Linked DNA regions of Homo sapiens: region 2 is linked to region 1. Evidence: fine-mapped expression QTL. A gene starts in region 1. The other region holds a variant in brackets. All regions are shown on one strand. Distances are from middle to middle.

The links.
Region 2: its variant is fine-mapped to the expression of NHS in whole blood (TOPMed, PIP 0.91).

The regions. Positions count from the first base shown.
Region 1 is chrX:17,370,542-17,379,803 of GRCh38, forward strand. It overlaps NHS (NHS actin remodeling regulator), which reads left to right and starts at 4,659. Exons shown (of 9, transcript NM_001291867.2): 1 at 4,659-5,781. The coding sequence starts at 5,217.
Region 2 is chrX:17,523,228-17,532,489 of GRCh38, forward strand. The region is part of intron 1 of NHS (NHS actin remodeling regulator); the gene reads left to right. It overlaps LOC101928389 (a long non-coding RNA gene), which reads left to right and starts at 5,208. Exons shown (of 2, transcript NR_135631.1): 1 at 5,208-5,531. The variant CGCTGTGTGGCTTCAGG/C (reference allele first, on the strand shown) is at 5,448.

The DNA of each region.
Region 1 (9,262 bases):
GTTTGCTATCACCATCTGCTTTAATTCTGTCAGTTATTTTGAGTTACGTATTTGCAGTTCTGACTAAATCCAGATTTGGCATGTTTAAAATTATATTCAGTTGTAAAATGTGAGGCTAGGATTTTTGAAGATTAGAAAGAAGTAAGAATTTCTCCCACAGGAAACAATGTGAGTAATCAACAGTTCTCTGCAAAGGAAGATAAAAAGGCTGGTTGGCATAGTCTTTGTATTCACAGTCTTTGGCATTTTGGGAAAACCATTTTAATAGCATTATTTTTTCTGCCCATGTTTTCCTATCAATAAAATGCAGAGAGAAACCCCTGTCCTTCACACTTGATAGACTAAATGAAGATTTTTAAGGAAGAAAAGCACAAGCTGAAACAAGGGAAAACCTTCAATGGTAGTATATAGTCTTTTTTCTCCCTCGAAACTATACATATGGTAGTTATCAATATATGTGTAAATATATTTATGTGTATGGTGGATTAATATTTTGATGTATTAATGAATATGTTTCTCTCCCAGTGTTTCATGGGAATACCTGTACACAAAGCCACATTCAAAGTTCCTGAACTGGAAGAACTTGGACTTTAGAGTTGCAAAAAGTAAGCTATGAAGGCTTTGGACATCATAAACCACACATATGGAAGAATGCATGCTTCCTCATTCAAGATGGCATACCACCATGGGCTGTGAACTTCCTCCCATGAGCCAGCAAAACTAAAGGAAAGAGGGATTTGGGGACTCTCAGAGCTCAGCAACTAACATTAAACTTTGCAGAAACTCTTGGAAAGCCTGACAATGGTGGCCTCCTGGTGTGGGAGAGAGAGGAGTGAGTAACATCTTTCTGTGACCCTTCAGTCGGCTATGTGTATGAGCTCTTTCCATATGTTTTAAGGCTCTCTGAAGTTTATCCTTTATTTTTCCCTTAAGGTGTTGTTCTGTACTGTAACTTTATTTGTAAGTGCAGTTTAAGTGTAGTATAGCCATGAGCTCGAAAAAGTTTTCTGCTTCATTGTGAACCACATGACTCTCCAACGATTTCCCAAGAATGACAACCTCACCCTCCTCCACTCCTCACCACCCAATTTCAAATCTGCTCTTCTTCCTTCATGAGATATTATAACATTGCATTTTATGTACAAACTATATTTATTTACTTTCAAATTGTAGCCCTTCACCTATGTAAACTTGCTATAGTTTTCTATCTGTGAAATGGTTTAAGTAACTTAAGTTGGGATGGAATGCTCATAATTTTTTCCAATAAAATTAATGCAAATATTTTTTATTTAACAGGTTTTTACTTAGTGGCAGGACTTTTTAGGAGTAGATTACATTGATTAAATGAGGAATAGGTTCAATTAGGTGGAGGAAAAGACACTTCAGTCACTATAATTCAATGATTATGCTAATGTGCCCCGTGTATCTCCTGGCATTTCTTAGCCAAAAGAAATATTTTCAAGTATAAATAATGGTAGGATATTCAAATCAGAACATTTTTAGCGAAGAGTGTTTTAGGAATCTCTGCTTTGCCGCTTGTGAGGTTCTATAGGAAGCCTGACTAGGGTTCCGTGGAGGCATGAGGACAGCCAGGTTGAGGACAGTGGCGCTTCACGGTGCTCTCAATGCCAATCTTCAAGTTCAGCAAAGCCCTTCTTCCTTCTGGGCTGGAGCAGGCAAGAATGTAACTGTGGGGCGTGGTGACACAGACAGGATCTTTCATTCATTTTACAATGGCATACAGTTTATACTGACTAAACATTTGAATTTATGGGCGAATTGTGCTGGCCTTTGAGCTGCATGAATGACTGCTGGGAATTAGGCGATGGGGCCATTTAAAAATGTTTCCTTTCCCTTCTATTTTGGCTACAAGTGCACGGTAAATAAACATGTGTACATGAATAGTGGGGAGGCGGTGTGATTGGGAGAGATCAACACACACATAACAATCTGGTGTAACAATCAGGTGTAACAACCTGGCTTTAGAAAGCAACCTTGACTTCATCAGAACTTTTTGTGGGAAAATTTGGAGTAAAATGTCACAATTCAGGATTTAAACAAGAAAGACACAGCTCCCACGTATGCTGAAAACTCATCAGCTTAAGACTATTCACATGTCCTGTCAGGATTACATGTGTTGCTACCCTTTTTAAAATTTCAGTATTTTAGTTCTAGAAAGCAGGAATAAAACCCAAAAATGTGTGTAGGGGTGTGTGTGTGGGGGTAATTCACATGGGAGGGACTTGAGTTGGGAAAAGGGTAGGATGGGGCCAGCAGGCTGTCTTGAAGCTGCCTTCCCAAAGCTAGCAGTTTTTTATTTAGATGGTGTCACTAATGTAAAACAATCGTTACATTTTCTAAAGATACCTTTATTCATATCTTACAGAGGACTGGGAAAACATCAACCAACCATATCAATGAATATGATCATTTGTATTAGGTTTGGTTTTGGTGACTTTGAAGGAGGGTGTCTTTCTCCCCAAATAAAACAAAAACAAAAACAAAAACAAAAACAAAAACAAAAACGTAATGTGCTCTTGGAAAGGTCACTGGGGACCACCACCAAAGGAAGGGGAGGGGACAGCGAGAATGAAGGAGATCAAAAGCCAAAATTAAAGGTTTTTAAAATTTTAACCAAAGGGCTTTATTAGCACACAAGTCAGAGTCAAGGAGATTACAAAGAGGGCACTCCTTTTTGCATCCTTGAACTGTGCTTTGAATCATTTTGAAATCTCGGCTTGAATCTGAGCTGATCACTTGGGGGCAGACACTAAGGTAGCTGGCCTGTTTTTTAGCTTAATTACCCCCTTGAACCCTTTCTCTCCTGGGCCTTTGCCCTTCCTTTCTGATCACTTATTTTGGGAGCCCTGGAAGGAACTTGCCAATAATCTGAAACTCCCTTTAGGAGTGAGAGTCCCACACCACTTATTCATTGCCCCTGTCAATGCTCAGATGGGCCCGCTCCACTGGCACCCTTGCTATTAATAGGACAGTGCTAGGTAAGGGAGAGTGAGAGGCAGGGCAGCCTGTTGCCACAAGGCTTGCTAACCAGATGCCTTTAATATCCCTCATTGTTCTCCATGCTTCCATGTGTTTAGGGAGAAGTGTCTGGCTTGCCTACCCAGCAGAACTCATGTTCAGAATTTTGAACGTATTAAAAAGTCAAGCTCAATTTAAAAACAGCTAGCTCAACGCTTTTCAGATTTGTGAGATAAAAAACAAACCTTAAAAGACCTTGTTCCAAAATATTCTTTTCTTTCATTTTTTATTTGGAAACAAAACCAAATTTAAAGTTGCAAGAAATGTACAATGAACCCTGATATGCCCTTAACCTAGACTATTTTGAACATTTTGCCATATTTTGTTTTTTTCTCCCTTCATACATACACATCTTTATTATCATCATTCTTCTTCTTGTTGTTACTGAAACATTTATGTGTACTTTGCAGACATCATGGCCCTTTACCCCCAAAGCCTCAGCCTGGATCTTTTATGAACAAGGATATGTCCTTGCCGAAAATTTTGGTTTTTTTTTGTTTTTTTTTTTTTGTTTTGTAGAATAAGACAAGGGTCTGTTGAAGCCTTTAAAACCAAAGCGTGGGCCAGTCCAAAGTGCTGACTGTTGGAGCCTCCTCCCTCTCCCGCCTTTAGAGGGAGGAGAGGAGACACCACCGCAGGTCTGGAGGACTTTATTGTTGCCATAAAACATATTTTTTCCATGTTCTCTTTAGAAACACGAAAAGAGGCTGCATTCCCAAGATCTGGCTTGTGGCTTTAAAATAAAAAATATTTTTACAGTATACTTTTTGGAGGCATGAAAGCACGTGTTTTATTAACATTTCCCAAACTCTTTTTACTGACGGCATACAGCCTGCAGCCTGCTGCAATCGAAAATGCATGCCTTTTTAGAAATTATACCTTTCAGTTAACTGAAGGGGAAAACTTTCCCTTCTTCTGTAAATCATCATCTCTCTGATGGAGAACTTTAAAAATCCTGTGTATGATCAGCACAGTAGGGTGACGAGGAGGTAATGCCGTTTATCTCACCCAACGTGCAATGAGTTTCGTAAGCAGTTTTCTGGGGATTTTGCTCATTGGTGGTTTGGGTCTCATTCACGATATTCTATAGAGCCCGTGCCCAAAACAGGGGGCCACGTGATGCCTGGGAAGGGGTATAAACAGCACTCTGGCTGCTCTGGCCACATGGAGATGCGCCTACGCCCTTTGCCCTCCCCAGTTGTCTCCTTGCGTTCATAGAGCCCGGGGATCTCCAAGGAGCAGCCCAGTTTTCCCTGTAAGAACCCAAAGGTCTTGTACAGAGCTGGAATTCGGCGAAAAACTTGCTCCAACACGCCAAATCTGCCGCATCCTCAATACCCCACCCTCTTCCCTCTGCGCTTACTGCCCACACCCCTACTCCCAACTTGAGGACTCCCCGCCCCCACCACGCTGACAGTCTCAATTCCAACCCCTTGGATGTGAGGAAGTGTCTTTGCGCCTGAACGCGCCCAGCACGGCGAGGCCACCAGTGACTCCCAGCGGCCGCACAGGGCGCTGCGCCCCCCTCGCCCCGGCCTCCCCCGCCCTGCGTCCGCCCCGTCACCCCCGCGCGGCCTCCTGCGCCCGGGCTGGAGGCAGATTCCTCTCTCCGGGTTTTCAGAGCGCCTTTCCGAAACCTCCTCCCCGCCCAGCCAGGGAGAGAGATCCCGGGCGCAATCGCTCCCCGGAGCGGCCGAGGGGCGCGCGGGGAGAGGCCTGCGCCGGGGTACTTTCAAACTGAGGCGCGCGCACACACTCACACCCACCCACCCACTCACCCACACACACACAGACACACGCACGCCCATTTATATAGGCGGCGGCGACGGCAGTGGCCGGGGTGGCGACGGCGAGCACAGAAACGATGGAGTTGAGCCAGTCGACCCTGGTTGGAAGCAAGTGAGAAGAGACCAGGCGCACCCCTAAATTTCTGTGCGGAGCGCTTGTCATCCTCCCCAGGGAACGGTGCACCCAAAGGAGGACTGGCTGGACTGATTTGCTAGGGAGAGGGCGGGGAAGAGGAGGCAAGGTGAGCAGAGAAGCCCCCTGCGTATCCGGACTGCCAGATCGCGCTTTTGCCGGACTCCTGCCCCCTCCCTGCTCAGGTGGGCGCGCCCGGTCTCCAGCTCACAGGGGCGCTTGGAGGAGACCAGAAAGTCGCCGCCTGGCTGCGCGGGATGCCTTTCGCCAAGCGGATCGTGGAGCCGCAATGGCTGTGCAGGCAGCGGCGCCCTGCGCCCGGCCCAGCAGTGGACGCGAGCGGAGGCAGCGCTGAGCCGCCGCCGCCCTTGCAGCCGCCGGGCCGGAGGGACCTGGACGAGGTCGAGGCGCCAGGGCCAGAGGAGCCAGCCCGCGCCGTCCCTGCACCTTCAGGGCTGCCACCGCCGCCGCCGCCACTGCCCGCGCCGGCCGACCAGACTCAGCCGCCGCACGGAGAGGCGTCCGTGGCTGGCGAGGAGAGCACGGCGGGGATCCCGGAGGCGGCGCCCGCAGCCGGCGAGGCGTCCTCGGCGGCGGCGGCGGCGGCCGTGCTGCTCATGCTGGACCTATGCGCGGTCAGCAACGCCGCTCTGGCCCGTGTCCTCCGGCAGCTCTCGGACGTGGCCCGGCACGCTTGCAGCCTCTTCCAGGAGCTCGAGAGCGACATCCAGCTCACCCACCGCCGCGTCTGGGCGCTGCAGGGCAAGCTCGGCGGCGTGCAGCGCGTCCTCAGCACGCTTGACCCTAAGCAGGAGGCAGTGCGTGAGTACCCGCGCCGTCCGCCCGCCAGGCTATGGGTTTCTGCGCCGCACCCTCGCGCCCTCCCCAGCAGCGGCAATCCCAGCCCCGCGGCGCCGCTCCGGTTGCAGCTTGCACCTTACTACTCTCGCCTTCCCACCCTTCCCATCCCCTGGGACCCACCCCAATCCTCCTGGGGCTGAGTGGCTGGGCTGGACCCCGATTCAGTGATGCAGACGTGGACGGTGGAAAGTTAAAAGGGCGACCTCTGAAGTCGCAGGCAGCGTGGGCTGAGAAGGAGCAGAAAGGGAGCGTTTATGGGGAGCACAGGAGGCAGAGAGGGTCTGTCCTTCACCACCGGGGCTCGCCTTTCACGTCCTTCACGGGGCGTAGGGAGGAGGGTTGCAACTCCTGTGGTTTCCAGAAGCCCAGCCCTGAGCCCTGTAGCCCACACCATGCATGTTCAGGGTTGGGGGTTCCAGGAGTAGTGAGTGTTCTTTTGAGACTGCTGCAGCACCGCGGCTGTTTCGTCACTCGCTGTGACCTCAGGTGCTGCCCCGAGCTCCGAACTTGTGCCTTGCCCTCGTGTGCGACGTAGCGTGGCGCTGCTCGCCTCCTAGACTGAACTTCGTAGTGCTTCTGCCGAAAACCCTTGTGGCCCGGAGGGGCCGCGGGGAGGGTCAGGGAGAGATGAGGGTGGGAGTGTCAGGGGCCCCGGGGAGATGGAGGAGACCCCTGGGCATCTTTTCTGCTCTGAACAGCCCAGGGTTCCTACTAAATGGCTCTGTGCCATCTGCCCGCAGAGGATCCCACAGACTATCTTCCTCCTCCCCGGTGCACTGTCGCCCAAATTTACTGGCACGTGGACTTAGGTATGAACTAGTCTGCTAGGCGGGCTGCAGGGAAACGACGAGGAAGGAAGTCTGGGAGACCCCTGGGCGTCTTTGCTGTCCGTTGACTTCGCTTTTACGACACCCAAGGGCTCCCAATAAATAGTCATTCTATGTCATCTCCCTTCCAAGGGCGGTCCCCTTGGCTCCGGATCGTCCAAATCTGGCGACGGCAGAATCATTTAGGAACGACCCAGGAGGTAGACAGGGGCGCTGGGTTGGCGCGACGGTCCTTTGGCGCCTAGTCAGGCTGCGACGCTCGCGGCGAAGGTGATGTCAGCGGCTCTGACTTACGTAAGAAGCTTCCTAGGTTGCTGCCGCAGCTGCGCCGGTGCGCAGTGGCCTAGGAGCGCGCGGGGCGGAGGCGCTTTGGAGGCATCCTTCCCTGGGGATTTCCGGGCACCTCTGCCCCACAGCCCAGCTCAGCCTCCCAGCGGTCCCTGCCCGCCCGCGTGTTCTCTCCCTCTTCCCCTCCTCCTCCGAAAAACCCTTTGAACCCCGTCCCGGGAATTCACTGCTTTTCTGCAATAACAATAGTAATAAGCGTAATGAATAAATGATGTGCTCGATCGGTTTTCGCAGCTATAAAAGACCCGGAGTTGGGTTAATGACTGGTTGTTTAAAAGGGCAATTCCGGGGATGAGTTCTGGAAAGAATTAGGACTGCCGTAGGCCAAGTCGTATTTTACTTTTGGGACTTGAAATGAGCGCTTTAATCCTGCCTCCTTTTTACCCCAAACCACACAGCAGGGACAGGCCCTTCACTTTCAACAGCGCAGGTATCTGGGGAGTGCGGTTGTGGGAGTGGTGATTTCACTTCAAAAGAACTGGAGGGAAGTTTTGCAGACTGTTGAGTGGTGCATACATTTCCCGTGTGTGTGTGTGTGTGTGTGTGTGTGAGACACACCTCTCCTTAAGTTAGATTTCACGCGAATGAAACTCACTGCCAGAGCAGAATGTGCCCACTTCTTTCTCTCTTTAGATGCAGCAGTGGGCAGTTATGTACCTGGAACGTGTCAGAGTTCTTTCAAGTCCTTTTAACTGTTTGGGGTACAAACTAATAGTTAGTAGAGATAAGAGAGGATCTTGAGTGTGTGCATATAGTTGGTGAATATATACTCTATACATATTTGTACATGAATAATAAAGATGGGGCTGATTTCTACCTGGGATAGATTTAAAATCTCATATTATTTTAAATTTTATTTTCTAAAATGCTATCTCCACACTTTATGTCCAGATCTCTCTCTTCTCTTGTTCATTTAAATTTGGGATGGCATTGTTTTTGTTTGATGTCATAAAAGGCATTACCTTTGGGAGAAAAAACACACTATTATGTGTCTTGGTTTAGGTTTCCTAGAATGCAGAGCCTGAGACAAGGATTTCGATGCAATTAACTTATTTGGGAAGGGTTCCCTGGAAGCACAGAGAGGGGGTAGGGAAGTGAGACAGGAAAGGGAGGAAAGAGGAAAGCCAGTACACCATGTAAGCTGGTTAGCCCTGTGGGCAACTGGGGTTCAATCCAGCTGGCGACCCTCTGAGCACACACCTCAAATGTGTTCCACTAATGATTAAAGAAGCTGGAGTATTTATGCACCAGCTTCTTCTTCCCACAGATGGAAGGTAGCACCTGGAGCATGAACTCCATGGCTTCTGGGTCTTGCCCCACATGTAGTCCCAGCATGCACCCAGGGCCAGGTAGAGAGATGCAAAAAGCCTATGATGTGCACAGGAATGTTGACAGAGGTCCTCTGGGGAGGGCAAAGTAGCTGTGGGTCGGTCACTAGCGGCATCAGCTGCATTATGCATCTATCTCCCTTTAGTATTGCTCAGGCCTAGGGGAGTTTGAAAGGGAGAGGAAGCCTAAAAGTAAAACTTACTCTTTTTTCTCTTCCTTTGAGAGTGCCTTCACACCACCTGTATATCCTTGTCACCTGATCCTCATTCCCCTGCGTAATCTGCTTGCTATTTCATCCTTGGACAGCTGCTTCCTGTTGCCCTGAGACAGGCTGGGGGGCTTCTTGCAGGGGCAACATGATCTGATGTACACTTTGGAAGAGTCACTCTGGAAGCAAGTCTGGTGGCTAGTAAACCAGTTAGACACTGTGACTGGTGATGGTGGCTAGGACTAGGGAGGTAGCTGTAGAGACGGTGAGAAGTGGTTAGATTCTGAATGCATTTTGGAAATAGGATTGCCAAGACTTAACTGATTTGATTGGGTACAGGTTGTGGAAAAAAAAAATAATTTAGGATGACTCCTAGTTTGTTGTTTTTGCTTGAAAAGCTTAAATAACTTGTAGACTGTGGCTGGGCACGGTGGCTCACGCCTGTAATCCCAGCACTTTGGGAGGCCGAGGCGGGCAGATCGCCTGAGGTCAGGAGTTCGAGACCAGCCTGGCCAACATGGTGAAACCCCGTCTCTACTAAAAATACAAAAATTAGCCAGGCGTGGTGGCAGGCGCCTGTAATCCCAGCTACTTGGGAGGCTGAGGCAGGAGAAATGCTTGGATCCGGGAGGCAGAGGTTGCAGTTAGCCAAGATCGCGCCATTGCACTCCAGCGTGGGCAACAAGAGTGAGACTTCATCTCAAAATAATAGTAATAATAATAACTGGTA
Region 2 (9,262 bases), 150 kb after region 1:
ATCAGGCTGAGTCTTAGAGCCTGGCAGGACTCAGGCCTGACAGAATGCAGGAATGCTGGAATGGAAACTGAGGTAGCAACACAGTCACATGATTGGGTGGACACAGCAGCAATTAGGAAACTCAGCAGCAGGTGCCACTTGAGAGGCAGAGACCCAGTCTTCCTGCCAGGGATGTCTTTCCAGGGCCCACCCCCCAGGCCTTGATCTCTGCTGCTGCCAAAAATGGCAGGGCTGACACAGCAGGATTGCTTATCTCTACTGAGCAGAGCAGATGAGGAAACCGAGGCATAGAGCCGCCATGAGACTCATCCCAAGGCTCCTGACAGTCCAGAGGCAGAGCCAGTAGTGGGGGCAGTCTCCCCAGATGAGCTGACCTCAATGGATCTCTACACAGAAGAGGGAAAACAGATAGGGCGGCATCCAGTAAATACCCCAAAAGCTCATCTTGGAACCTGTGAGTCCCTGCTTGTGTTTCTTGGCTTCCCAGGTCCCTCACACCTCAATAAAAGCCCAGTCTTGTCTTTCTCTCCCAACAGTGCCGGCAAAAGAAATAAGACCTCCAACCACCACAGTGGAAAACCTGCAGGAAGAAAATGTTCATAAAGAGTTGAACCATGGCCCGAAGTGGTTTTGGTTTTCTTTCAAGGCCTGCAGCATCCTGGAGTGCCAGGGGCCTGTGGTCACAAAAGCTTCATCTCAAAAGAAGCTAAGAGGGGGTCCATTCTGGGGAATACTCTGGACAGTGCTATGAAGGGCAGCTGGGAAGAGAGCTGGCTCTCTGCTGCATATTGACTACTCGGGGGTACAATTTTGTCTTGCCCTTACCCTTATCCACCCATAGCAAGCTCCGCATTTGGTGATGTTTGCTTGTTTCACTTTTTATTTTGAAATAATTAAAACTTACAGGACAGGTGCAAGAATAGTGTAAATAACTCTTGTATACCTTTATCTAGATTCACTAATTGTTCATATTTTGTTGCATTTATCCCTTCTCTCCCCCACACTAATTCATGTTCATATATATGTGAATTTTTTTGCTGAACCATTTAGGAGTAGGCAGCTGTCATCAAACTCCCTTTACCCCTTGCATTTCCCAAGAATGAGAATATTCTCTTGTATATGTACAGCTATCAAATTTAGAAAATATAATATTTATTTCATACTTTTATGTAACCTGTGTCCCAATAATGCCCTTTATCACAATTTTCTTAAGGTTCACAATCTAGTCCTGGATCCCACATTGCATTTAGTTGTCCTGTCTCTTTTGTCCCCGTTAATCAAGAACAGTTCATAACTCTTCCTTTGTCTTCAGTGGCCTTGACATTTTTGAAGAATACCAGCCAGTTGTTTTATAGAATGTTCCTTAATTTTGGTTTCTCTGATGTTTCTTCACATTTACATTTGGATTTAGGCATTTTTCAGTTGGAATGCTATATAGGCATGTAAGTGATTTGTTCTCTGGGGACCATATCAGGAGGCACAGATGTCCATTTGGCCCTTGTTGGTGAGGTCACATTTGATTAGTTAAGCTGGTGTCTGTGTAGCTGTTCTTTTTCCTTTTGTAATGAACAAATATAATTTGTTGGAAGATATTTTGACATTATGTAAATATCCCATTCCTCATCAAACTCTCTCCACCTAGCTTTAGCATTCATTGAGGATTCTTGCCTGGATAATGATTTACTCTAATGGTTTCATCCATCATCCCTTCTATATTTGTTAGTCCAAAATAGTCTTTGATTGGGTGGGAAGGCATACTAAGCCTGCCGATCTTAGTAGCTGAGCTCACAGGGAGGAAGGGCCTTGATTTCCTCCTTGGACTCTGACTGACAGCTCTTTTGAAGCAGTCCTGTTCTGTTGGGTGTATGTTTTGACACATGTAGTAACTCATTTTGGAAATACTTATTTTTTACTAGATAACTTTCAAATAAGTTTTTAAATACTTTACAAAAAAATGGTAGGATGTTGGTTGCATATGTTATCATTTATTTTTGTGGCATCTGCTGGAAAATTGCACCTGGTTCTTTTACACAGTGTTGATCAACAGAAACCTGATCATGATGATAGCAATAATAATATCTTCTCACCATCTGAACCCTGCTCCAGAGAAAGGGATGAAATTAGAGAGATTGTTTGAATTCTGAGAAGGATGGTTGGACTAAAAAGGAAAACCAGCTATTGGAAGCAGATGAATTAAGTAAAACATGAATTTCCAGGAATGTTTCAAAATACTTGTGTGGGAGTTCTTTTTGGAATGTTAAAGCAGTGAATGGCATTGCTTGGAATTTTGTTTTTTTCTTTATTGATTTTGGTTCAAAACGAATCCTTAATCAGTTTCTAGCCAGTTCATTTTTGTCTATTTTTTGCAGCAATTTACTGTTTTGTTTTTGTTTTCTTTTTTCTTTCTTTTCTTTTTTTTTTTTTTTTTTTTTACTACAGTGGAAGGGGTTTTTATGGGAGAAACCTCTGATTATTGTTTTAGTGGGCCTAGAATATTAAGTTCTTGGTTTTGATTTTTGTCTTTTTAAATAGCTCTTTATAGCCCATAGTAAGAACAAAGGACTAATGGGGGATGTTTGGGAGGTTTCTCAGCTCTTATATGTTGTTATAACACTGGTTGTTACAGTTGCCATTAAGGTTAATGTTTTCAGAACAGCACCAAAAGCTATAAGCGGACATGAAGGAAAAGCAGCTGTTTTTCATAAAACTTACAGATGAACCAATGCTAGTTACTCCTGTGATGAGTGATCTAGAGCAGCCTTTCCCTAGTGTGTGTGTTCCTTGGAATGTGCATGTGTGTATACACACAGAAGAGAGAAAAGGGAGAGTTAAGTTCATGGTCAAAGAAGTTTCAAAAACATTGCATATTGTAACTCCATATTGGAGAATCACAAGGTTAAAAGAGTATAGTTAATGCTTTGAATGTTACACCTTTGCTAGAAAACAAACTACCCCAAAATTTAGTGGCGCTGAACAACAAACATATATCTTAGTCTGTGGTTGAGCTCAGTGGTTGTTCCAGTCTGGGCTAGGCCAGGCCAGGTGGTTGTAGCTGGGCTAGCGCATGTGTCCACAATCAGTGATAGGTCAGCTGAGGCCTAGCTGATCTAGATTGGCCTCATCTGGGATGTTCCCCCTGGCAGTGTCCTCTTATCGTCTAGCAGGCCAGCCTGGGCTTGTTCATATGGTGATCACGGAATTCTGAGCATGCGAGCAGAAGTGCGCAAGGCCTTTCGAGATCCAGGCTTGGAACTCAGACAGTGCCACTTCTGAATTGCATTGGCCAAAGCAAGTCACAGAACCAAACCCAGATTCAAGGGTTTGAGAAATAGACTCCACCTCTCGATGGGAGGGCTTACAAGGTCTCATTGCAAATGGATGGGGAGATACCGAAAGGGGAATGATTGCAGCCATTTTGACAATCTAGCAGAGAGATCAACTAATACGTGACTGGCTATTATTTCTATGCGCATTTCTGGGTTTGGGAGAATTTGTAGGGGAGGAGGAAAAGAGATACAGATCATTTATAATTGCAGAAAGTAAAAATAAGACTTCAGTTGAGATTTAATGAGCTAATCTATTTCAAGTGCTTTGAACTCGCATGTAGTAAGAGCTCTATAAATGTTGCTGTTATTATTATCATGAATGCATATGTCACTTGAGGTCCTCAACCTCACTTAGAAGTGAAGCAGGAAGATTCATTTGACAACAAAATGAACAAAACTTCAGATACTTGTGCAAAACATATAATCAAGTGAAGGAATTTAAATAAAATACCCCCAGCAAAAATAGTCTGGAGCACAGAACAGACATTTTCCTCTGGGGGTTGAAGGTGGGAAGATGTGTCCAGTTTTGCCTTCTGTGACCAGTTCACCCTGTTGGGCTTGTTTCCAAGGTAAGGTCAGAGCTTGCCGGGTTCTTGCTAAACTGGAGTCTGTAATAAAGAGGGTACCCAGGTGTGAAGAGTTTTATGTTCTCAGGACTTGTTCTTTGTTTATTTAGTTAGCCTTTATTAAGTGCATTGGAGCCTTGGAGGGCTCTGCAGTGGCTTTTGTTGCATGATAAAGGTGGCACATAGCTTTTCTTTGGCTGACTTGGGCTCCCAAGTGAAAAAGGCAGAGAGGGCCCTGCCAGCTTCCCTGGCTCTGCCCCTTCAGGGCATTTCAGGGAGCAGTCCAGTGACTGACGCCAAATGCCCTTGAGCACTGTGCCAGCCCTCTTGACTGGAAGCTGGGGAAGGAAACTTTCTCAGGCCCTCTCTCTCTTTGCTTCTATTTCCCCTTTCATTTTGTGGTCTGAGCAGCCCCCGCCCCTCCTTGCGTAAACCCCTCTGCAGTTAGCATCAACAAATCCCAAGTTGTTTGTATGTGTGTCTAAAAGAAAAATTCTCTGAGGATTAGAAGCAGACACAATAGAGGGAGTGCTCCCTTTTGCTTTAATCACTTCAGGCTCCTACGTGTTGACAGGAAGTTTTGTTAGTATCCAAGTTTAAGGAAAGGAGCATTCAGGGGTGGCATTTTTTTTCCTGCGTTGAATTCTTAAAGTAAGTTTGATAAGATATCTGGTAAACTACAAGCCGCTCCCTTTTTAAATAGGCTTCACTGCCCCCTTGGCCTGCCTGTAAAAGCGCTGCTCCCTTCAAAGGGACCCATAATCACGCCGAGTCTGTGGGTTGCACGACTATACCCACTGTCTTATCTGCAAGTTGAGTTTGATCTTCCTGGCTGAAACCTGTGAGATGTTCCTTTATGTCTCCACATTCTTTTCTTCCCTTTCTGCTCCCAACCCCACCCCCAAATTAATTGGTGTCTGGTGACTTTTTCTACCGCTTCCTCTTGTTTTCTGTGGCTTTTGTCTAGGGCAGTGGGGGAGGGTGATTCTTCCCTCACCCCCAGGGGACATGTGGCAATGTCTGGAGACATTTTTGGTTGCCACAACTGGAGAAAAGGGGCATCTGGTGAGGAGAAGTGAAGGATGCTGCTAAACCTCCTACAATGCACAGTGCAGCCCCCACAGCAGAGAATGATCCAGCCTCAAATGTCACCAGTGCCACCACAAGGAGCCCCTGATCTAGCAGGTTGCTTTCTGGTAGGGTGCTCCTGCTTCTGATATGGCTCCTCCCTCTCTCTCTTCTTCCTCAAGAGGACTGTTCTTGTGTCTAGTATTGGTTACATCACCCCTGCCCTTAAATAACTAAACTCACAGAAGGAGAAAATTTTTCCTTAAGGATGCTACTGACTCTGGAATCCTTGAGTTACATGTGAATAACTGGGTCGTGCATGTCAGCATTAAGAAATAATCACAGAACTCCTGATTCTGGTTTGCTCTGGGTGGCAGCTGTGCTGGGTTTACCAATGGAGGAACTTCATGGCTGCTCATCTTTGACTCTTTTTCTGAGGAACCAAATCTCTCTGGGAGTGCTGGCTAACTCACCCCTTCTTCAAACA[CGCTGTGTGGCTTCAGG/C]ATATGGCTGCTGGCTTTAAAAAAGAAGGAAAAATAAATTAAGACACCCACACTGCAAGACAACCCCTGTGAGTATATGTTATACTGGGAATGCCCCATTTCTCAAATATTTATAAATATATGGTCTCTTGGAGTGTTCTAGGTCTGTCATTTGGGAAGGTTAGACAGCCCTGGGCCACTATCCTTTTTCGTAAGCACAGGGCACTTTCACAAATACCAGATTGACAGCTGGGTGATGCCAAGGGAATGGTGATGTGTTGCCCTGTGTATATCTGGGATGTGTTAGACATCCCTCCCTTCCTTCTTTTTCTTTGTTTTCCCTCCCTCCTTCCCTTCTTCCCTTCCTTCTTTCTTTTTTCTTCCTCCCTCCTTCCCTTCTTCCCCTCCTTTCTTTCCAAGCACATCAGTGAGAATGTAGCACAGCTTGGTTTTCTGAAGTCCGTCAACTACTGTGTACTGCTTGTCAAGAAGGGTGCTATATAAGCTGAAATGCTGCTCTAAATTTCACATTATCCCTTCCTGCTGCTCATTGAGTTATTTAATTAGAAGCTGCCATATTTTCTAGGGAAAACACTTTGAACAGAAGGCCTGATTTCACTGAGAATGGATGCCTTTATTATGTGTCAAGGAGCTAAAAATTGCTAGTAAGATGTCAGTGTGTATATGTATATGAAATACAGAAAAGTGCATGTACATATATGAAGAGCAATCAAAAGAGAAATGCGAAGGGGTTGGAAAATGAAGAGGTGTCAGATCCAGTCGATGATTTGGTTCCTGCTCAGGAGTGTGTAAGCTTCAGTTGGCTCCAGTTTGGCTAACACTGCAATGCCTTTAGTGTCACTGAAGCCGACAAAGAAAGCTGACGCGTTGTTTTTCTAGGGGGAAAAAAAATGCTCTCCTTCCACATTCCCAGTGCAGACAACAGCAGAAAACAGAAATGAGACCGTACTGCCCAGAGTCCACACAGACTCCAACTCAAAGTCTTTGAATTATGTATTCAATTCTTGCCACTTTGCACATTTTCCCTTAAAGAAAAGAGAAAAAAATCAGTTCATAGTAGCTCTTAAAAAGCATGGAGGGGCATTCAGGATTCAATTCATCCTGAGAGGCAGATTTTAAGTTTCATTCTTAGAAGGAGATTTCGTGTTTAGGGTATGACAGTGTGGAGTTCATAGGAAGGGATGTCAGCTAAAACCAACTGCATCCTGTCTTTTGAGTTTGTTTTACCTTTGGTGTCCCCTGTTGACATGTGCCTTTCACTTCGCTTGGAGACTCTCTGGATGTGCAGGCTGCTTCATGTCCTTTAGGCTCTTCTGTGGCAGCCAAGGGGGTTTCCTTTTTTCTTCCCTCTATTTCTGGGCCACAGAGAGGAAAGAACAAAGATGCTTTCCCTGCACTGACTCCAAGTTGAAGCTAGTCAAACTCCCCTCTGAAAGGGGTTAATCATTTTAAAATAGCTCGAGAATAACTTGAAAGTGACTTTCAGTGAACGTGTCCAGAGATCTCTGGATTTAAATCCCCTCCCCTCCTCTCCCTCTCCAGCCAGGTCACCGGATGGGAATGGCTTATTTCTATCTGCCATTAGGTTTTTCAGCCCTGCCGAGAGAGACGCCAGTGCTGGACTTTAATGTGGAGGAAATTCAGTTAAGGAGCATGACATTTCTCAGGTTTCTGGAGAGATGGATGTTTTGGCTTATGTTGAGTGCTACCGACCCCATTTGTCACCAGCAAGCAGGTGGATAGTCCCTTAACCTCTCAGAATGGGGTGAAGGGATGATTTGGACCCTTGCTACTCAAAGTGTGGTCCTTGGACTAGCAGTATCGTCTCCCCTGGGAGCTGGTTAGAGATGCAGAATCAGGGCTCCACTGCTGACCGACTGAATCTGAATTTGCTGTTTAACATGATCCCCAGGTGATTCAGACGCACATTAATGTTTCAGAAGCGCTGGTCCAGGGCAGTGGTTATCAAATTTGAGCATATATTGGAATTTGTTTCAACAATCCTATTAAAACACAGATTGCTCAGCCTTACTCTCAGAGTTTTGAATCTATCAGGTTTGGGTCAGGGCCAGAGAATCTGCATTTCATCCTTTTTTCTTTTTTTTTCAGACAAGGTCTCACTCTGCCGCCCAGGTTTGGGTACCGTGGCACAATCATAGCTCACTGCAGCCTCAAATTCCTAGGCTGGTCTTGAACTGCTGGCCTCAAGTGATTCCCCTGCCTCAACCTCCCAAAGTGCTGGAATTTCAGGCGGGAGCCACCCTGCCAGCCAAATCTGCATTTCAAACAGGTTCCCTGGTGATGCCCATGCTTCTGGTGAGGTGGAGGAGCACACATTGGGAATAGCTGCTCTCGAGGAACCCTGGCCCTTCTGGCAGCCTTTATTTCTCTCTCCATGGAAACCCTCGCACCAGCCAGGCTACCCTTGCCCCCTGCCTCATGCTTTTAATTCCCTTCCCCTTCCTCCTTTTGGAGAGGCCAGTACCTCCCCCTTATAAACCTCCCCCATTTCCTAGCTGTGAATCCAAACCCACACTTTCCTTTCCTGGCCACTCTGAGCTTTCTCATCCCCCTTCAGTGGCCCCCCAGTTCTTCCCCTGGTGCCCCAGCCTTCCCAGTTAGATTGCAAGCTGGAAGTGGGCCTCCCCCTCCCTCACTGTCCCCCTAATCCATCACCAGGATCATTCATTTCACTGCCCAGTGTCTCTCAGATCCCTCTTCTGCCCTCTACCCTAACTACCACCCCTGTGGTCTAAGCCCCATCTTCTCCTGCAGCTGTCTTTGGAGGTCTCCTTGTAGCCTCTCTTGCATTTGTCCAGTCTCTTTTCTACTATCAAGTCCAAGTGACCTATTCAAAGTTTCCCGCACCATTATTCCCCCCTCCTCCTCTGCCACTGCTTCAGCTCTTTCTGTGACACCATTGGTCGTAGCCTACAATCCTGAGCATGGCCCTGAAGGCCTCTAGGGTGGGCCCTGGCTATGCTTCTGTCTTTCTCTCTGCTGCCCTCCCTTGGCTTTGTGCTGCAGCCACGCTGGCCTATTTTCAGGCCCCCACAGGGCCTTTGCACAAGCTGAGGTGCTTTCTCCAGCCCCACCTCACCTGCTTAGTGCCTCAGCATCCTGCCAATGGCCCCTCAAGCTTCCCCAGGGAGGCTTTCTCTGACCTTCTCCAGCCAGTGAGATTCCTTTGTTGTTGACCCTCCTTCTTATCCTCATAGTGCTTTTTGCCCTATGCAGTTATATATCCAAAGTGTGACAATTGGATTAATGCGTGTCTCTCCTGCTAGACTGTAAGTTTCATGGAGTGAGGACCCATTCATTTGTGTTGATTCTTGTCTCCCCAGGAGCTGGTATCTAGAATGCACCCAACAAATATTTGTTGGTGAAGCCAGTGGGATCCTTTGCAGCTCCATGCAGTGGTTCACACCCCACATAGACTCCTAAAATATGACACTGGAAAATGAAAACTTTTTAAAATTGTTTTAAATATATAAGAATTCAGCTCTGAATGTCTAGATAATTGGTAGCATGAATTGGCCCTCGAGGTCAGGAAGACTTCTTTGCTCTGGTTTTAATTAGTGCAAAGCGGAAGCCATTTCTATGTAAATGAATCAATCCATCGAGGCACACTTCTTTAGCCCTGATTATATGCCAGGCACTGGACCGGAGCCCCAGGAAACAAAGATGAATGATATAGTCCCTGCCCTTGAAGGGAGGAAAAGCAGATGGCTGGTCCCTGGAGACCTTCCTAGCAGTAAAGAATTCAGTAACAGTATGGACGATGGCACCAGAAGTGTGC